Regions from separate parts of the Homo sapiens genome. Here region 1 is linked to region 2. Evidence: fine-mapped expression QTL. A gene starts in region 2. The other region holds a variant in brackets. All regions are shown on one strand. Distances are from middle to middle. Region 1 has its middle 3.3 kb from the start of UMOD. Region 2 holds the start of IQCK-AS1 (IQCK antisense RNA 1).

Region 1 (2,912 bases), 590 kb after region 2:
TTATCCTATACCTTTTTCATGAGGCCTTGTCTAAACCTTATTATGGGTGTCTTCAAAGGATTAAAGACAGTGACCCCAGGTGGCTTCTGGAGTTTTCTTGACAAAGACTTGGGCAGGAAAATGGGGAGTTTGGGTTGGAATCTATTCATAAGTGTAATCACCATGCTTTCTAGTTTCTGTATTTGGTGCTTGTACATTTTGGGGCCTTACTGATCATGGAGGGACTGCCCCTCCCAGGGCTCAATAATTACTAGAGATCAAAAACGACTTATCTGTGAATGTGCCTTTCCGACTGCAAATCAATCAATCCAGACCACATACCCCCAACCCTTGGCCTCCTTTTTGGGGCTTTTACACTTAGGGTCACTACTTGCTGCTTTAGATCACCCCAAGGGACCAGGTACCAGACAACTAGAGACAACTCCTATGGCCCAGAGGTCTCTGAAATTATTCAAACTAAGCCAATCCTAAATCTGCTTACCTTGCCTCTCCCATTCCTTCCTGCAGAAACTACAATAAAGGCTCTTTCCTGCCTTTTCCCTTGCTCTCTTTGCTTCCTGACCGACCCTGGTACTTCCCAGCAGCTCTTCCTCTCCCTTCAGCCCCTCTGCCCAGTGTGGTGTGTCCCCTTCTCTTGGGATCTGTGAGTATAACAAGTTGTCAGTGGCCATAATTTCCTGCTCTGTTGCTCATCAAGTTCACCAAAGACATCCATGTTACCAAATTCAATCAATATTTTTCTCTTTATCTTACCTCTAGGACAGTGCACAATAAATATTTGTTTTTGAACGAACCTTAATCTCTCAGCACTTCGCTCTTGAAACACTCTTCTTTCTTTCTTTCTTTTTCTTCTTCTTTTTTTTTTTTTTAATGGAGTCTTGCTCTGTCACCCAGGTTGGAGTGCAGTGGCTCAGTCTTGGCTCACTGCAACCTCCACCTCCCAAGTTCAAGTGATTCTCTTGAATCCTTGAATCCTCAGCCTCCCGAGTAGCTGGGATTACAGGTGCATACCACCATGCCCGGCTAATTTGTGTTTTTTTTGTACACATTGGCCAGGCTGGTCTCGAACTCCTGACCTCAGGTAATCTGCCTGCCTCGGCCTCCCAAAGTGCTGGGATTACAGACATGAGCCACCACAACCAGCCTGAAACACTTTTCTCTCTTAACTTTCAAACATGGGTAGGAGACTTGATCTTAATAATGCTGAGAACAATCACCCACTGAGCACTTCTCTTGGGTCAGACACTGTGCTCAGTGCTTTTGCCTCCATTGTCTCAAACAATGAAACACA[A/G]CAACCCACGTCACAGGGAAGAAGACAAGTTCAGAGAGGTGGAGTAACTCCCCCAAGATTACACAGCTAGCGAGTGTTAAATCCAGACTAAAACTCAAATCTCACTCAGATTTACCTGCATTCCTTGGGTTACAGAACATTCCATGCTCAGCCATGACAGGGTCTTAGAAGGATAAGTGGTTTTAGGTAGTTTTGGAAAGAGTGAAACTAAAGGGTGGAGAGTTTTGAAAAATTGATCAAACAGAACACAAAAACTTAGAATGAGAGGTTGGTGTGTGTCAGAAAGCGGCAAAAAATGAGCCAAGGGAGAAGATCCCCCAAAAGAGGGGTATTACCTGTCCCACCTACCTCTCTGAGCACACACCTCCTGAGGCTCCAGTTACGCCTGGGGGACCTGGAGGTGGCACACCCATTCTCTGGCTCGTGGCCTGTCAGGGGCTCTATGCCACATGATCTAGTCTAGGCAGCCCCCCGTAACCCTCCTTCAACTGGCAGCCACATGACCTCAAGGCCGAGGCAGGTGAGCCTTACACCGTGTCCTGAATACTAACACCTGCTCCTGTTGGGGAATTCGGCTCAGGTGAGTTCCAGAGCCGCAGGCTGTTCCCTGCTTCCTCTGGTTGTGGACAGGCCAGGTTCAGGGTGAGGGGCATGGGAGCTGTCTCTGGAGGTATGAGAAAGCACAAATAGCCTTTGCCTTACATGACAGGTGAGGAGTGGAGAGACCCAGGTGGTTTCTAGAGACCTCAATTTCTAAAAGAATGCTGCCCTTCTTTTCTCAAGAGAAGGCCTGGCTGAAATGAATGACACAAATCCATGAGTTAAATCTGTGGTAGGCTGAATAATGACCCCCAAATACGTTCACCTCTGAATCCCCAAACCTGTGTGTGTTGCCTTTTATGGCAAAAGGGACTGTGCAGTGTGATTACAGATCCTGAGATGGAGAGGTTGTCTGGGCAGGCTGGATGCAATCACAGTGGTGCCTATAAAAGTGATGCAGGAGGAGTCAGAGGAAGTAGGTGTAAGGATGAAATGAAAAGTCAGAGTGATTCTAGGACAGAACCATAAACCAAGGAATGCAGGGGCCTCCCAGAAGCTAGAAAAGGCATAGCAGGGAATTCATCCAAAAGGGACTAACTCGTGAATTTAGTCCAGTGGAATTGATTTCTAATTTCTAGCCTCCAGAACTCTAAGAGAGTAAGTTTGTGTTGTTTTAAGCCACTTAAGTGTTAATTTGTCAGATCAAAAATAGGGAACGAATACAGATTCCAGTTTGGATCTGGGGACAACACTGTCAGCACCTCTGCCTTTTGGGATGACTATGAAATTATGTATTTCTCACCTAAAATGGAATATTTGATTGATCCACGAGCATTTATTGAGCATCTACTATGTGTCAAGCAGAGTTCTAGGCAAAGGGAATACGGCAAGAAAAAAAACAATAGATATATCTACTTTCGTGGAGCTTACATATTAATTGGAGAATCAGGCAATATATCATTGCACAACAAAATAAGATGCTTTCAATTTTTAGTCTCCAGGAATGCCTTTTGGAGGTGGTGACAGGTGAGCTGAGATTTGAACCAAGAAAAGAACATGGCTATGTGAGGAACTGGGGGAA
Region 2 (2,912 bases):
TTTTTTTTTGTATTTTTATTAGAGACGGGGTTTCACCGTGTTGGCCGGGATGGTCTCGATCTCCTGACCTCGTGATCCGCCCACCTCAGCCTCCCAAAGTGCTGGGATTACAGGCGTGAGCCACCGTGCCCGGCGGATCACGAGGTCAGGAGATCGAGACCATCCTGGCTAACACAGTGAAACCCCGTCTCTACTAAAAATACAAAAAATTAGCCAGGCATAGTGGCGGGCGCCTGTAGTCCCAGCAACTCGGGAGGCTGAGGCAGGAGAATGGCGTGAACCCTGGAGGCGGAGCTGGCAGTGAGCCCAGATGGCTCCACTGCACTCCAGCCTGGGCGACAGAGTGAGACTCCATCTCAAAAAAAAAAAAAAAAAAAAATCAGTTTATATCTGGCCGGGCATGGTGGCTTATGCCTGTAATCCCAATACTTTGGGAGGCCGAGGTGGGCAGATCACTTGAGGTCAGGAGTTCGAGACCAGCCTGGCCAACATGGCAAAACCCCGTCTCTACTAAAAATAAAAAAATTAGCTGGGCACGGTGGCACGTGCCTGTAATCCCAGCTACTCAGGAGGCTGAGGCAGGAGTATCGCTTGAACCCGGGTGGTAGAGGTTGCAGTGAGCCGAGATCGCACCACTGTACTCCAGCCTCGGGGACAGAGTGAGACTCTGTCTCAAAAAAAAAATTTAGACTCTCGGCTCTCAGTTGTCACATATTTTGCTTAAATCTTCCCTCTTTGAGAATACCAAGATGAATAGACCCTTGGCTGACTCTGGCAATTTTGAGAATTTTAAAAACCCCAGATATTAACCAGTTTTTTTTTAAATCTAAGATTACACATTGAAAGGAGAGAAACATAGGAAAACCTTGTTTCTTATTTAGCTTTCAAACCTGTGCCTGATTTTATCCGCTATGAAATGTATAGCCCAAAATTTATTGATTTACATATATTTTTCTAAGACAAGCTTCTTTGAGTATCATTCTCCAAGTTGCTGCTTTGCCTTGAAAAAAAATTTTCCATTTGTAATAACCAATGAAAAATAACCTTAAAAATAAGATAACTTCTCTAATAAGAATCCTCTTAGCTTTATTTATTATACAAATACCTTAATTTTAAATGGTGCTGATGTCCACAGGAAGCTCATGTAAATATACTGTGAAGGAGCAGTAGCGGTCATTTCAGCTGCACTCCACAGGAACAGAAACACAAGAGCTCTTGCTTTAACGGGCATTTATATTCTCTACATCCATGACCTTTCAAAGAGATGCCCAGATGCATGATAAAAATTAAAGTGATATTAATCTATTTGATGCAATGAATGTCTATCGAACACCTACCCAGTTCAACTGCACAGAGCTTGGTGCTGTGGAAAAAACAGAGATGAATAAAGTATGGCCCTGGCCCCTTGGGGTGGGGGGACATGTTTACAACTTGCTGTAGTTTCTGTAGTGAGTGTTGTAATTCAAATGTTAACAAAGCATTAAAGGGAAGTGGGGAAGCATGAGACCATCCACGTGCCCTTCCTGGTGGGCCTGGAGCCAGCCCAGCTGGGGCAGCGGCCAAGCTGGTTGGTGCCCAGATTTGGTCCAAGGCAAGAACTCAAATGCTGCATTCTTCTTGTCTCAAGTAGGAATAGTCAGAGAAGCAAGCAGGAACCAAAGTTCTTAAGGAGAACAAGGGTGGGAGCCGGGAAATATCCAATCCAGGTTGTCTCAACCTTGGCACTATTGACATTTAGGACTGGATAATTCTTTGCTGTAAGGAGCTGACCTGTGCATTGTAGGATGTTTTGCAGCATCTCTGGCCTCCACTCACTAGATGCCAGTAGCACCCTCCTACAGTTGTGACAATCAAGAATATCTCCAGACACTAGCGTATGTCCCCAAGGGGAATGAGGCAAAACTGCCTCTGGTTGAGAACCTCTGATTTAGTCCAGTAGTTTCAAAACTTTAAAGCAGCACTTTGGGAGGCCGAGGTGGGTAGGTCACTTGAGGTCAGGAGTTCGAGACTAGCCTGGCCAATGCAGTAAAACCCCATCTCCGCTAAAAATACAAAAATTTGCCAGGTGTGGTGGCACATGCCTGTAATCTCAGCTACTTGGGAGGCTGAGGCAGGAGAACTGCTTGAATCCAGGAGGCAGAGGTTGCAGTGAGCCAAGAAGGTGAAACGGGAAAAATTACCTTGTCCCCCTCGCAGGGCATGCAACAGGGGGATGTGGCTCGCTTTTTCAGTGCCCTGCTGCTCAAACCTCTAGGGGAGCATACAGGCAGGCAGGTTGTCGGGCTCCCACCCGATGGCGGTGTCTATAGGTGAATTTACAGCTGAAGCCCCAGTGGGCATATGTTACCAGGTGCTCTCTTAGTTTGCCATCTATAGGCGGTTTGTGTTAACCAGCTCAATTCACCCTCTACCTTGTTGCGAGGACAGAGGGATTTCTGTATCCCAGGTTCTTGCCTTTGTGTACCAGAGAAATCAGATCACACGTGGGCTTGGAGAATGAGTGCAAAGTTTTATTGAGTGGAAGTAGCTCTCAGCCGATGGAGGAGCCAGAAGGGCACCATGGTTTTTCCCATGGAGTTGGGCTGCTCAGCGGCCACAGCTTTCCTCCGACTAACTGCCCTGGCCAAACTCAGCCTCGTCCTGCCAGGTGCCTGTGCCTGCCGTGTGCTCTTCTGCTGGTGTGCTCCTCTCAACATCCTCTCCGTGAGCAGCTGCTTGTATCTTTTTCCGCTGAAGTGCTCCTCTCGACGTTTGGCTGCCTGGGTGTCTGCCCGCTAGGGTCTCGGGCTTTTATATGCCCAGGACGGGGGGTGTGGCAAGCCAGGGTGGTCTTGGGAAATGCAACATTTGGCAGGAAATGGCTGTTCTCATCTAGGTCCCTGGGGGTGAAGCCCTAGCCAGGGACCACGCCC

The links.
Region 1: its variant is fine-mapped to the expression of IQCK-AS1 in prefrontal cortex (GTEx, PIP 0.97).

Annotation. Positions count from the first base shown.
Region 1 is chr16:20,354,555-20,357,466 of GRCh38, forward strand. It overlaps a transcript of UMOD not described here. Among named protein-coding and RNA genes, the nearest start is that of UMOD, 3.3 kb to the left of the region's middle. The variant A/G (reference allele first, on the strand shown) is at 1,292.
Region 2 is chr16:19,764,864-19,767,775 of GRCh38, forward strand. IQCK-AS1 (IQCK antisense RNA 1) reads right to left here and starts at 1,207. Exons shown (of 4, transcript NR_188663.1): 1 at 1,106-1,207. All of the region lies in intron 6 of IQCK (IQ motif containing K), which reads left to right. RefSeq lists enhancers at 2,225-2,725, 2,726-2,912.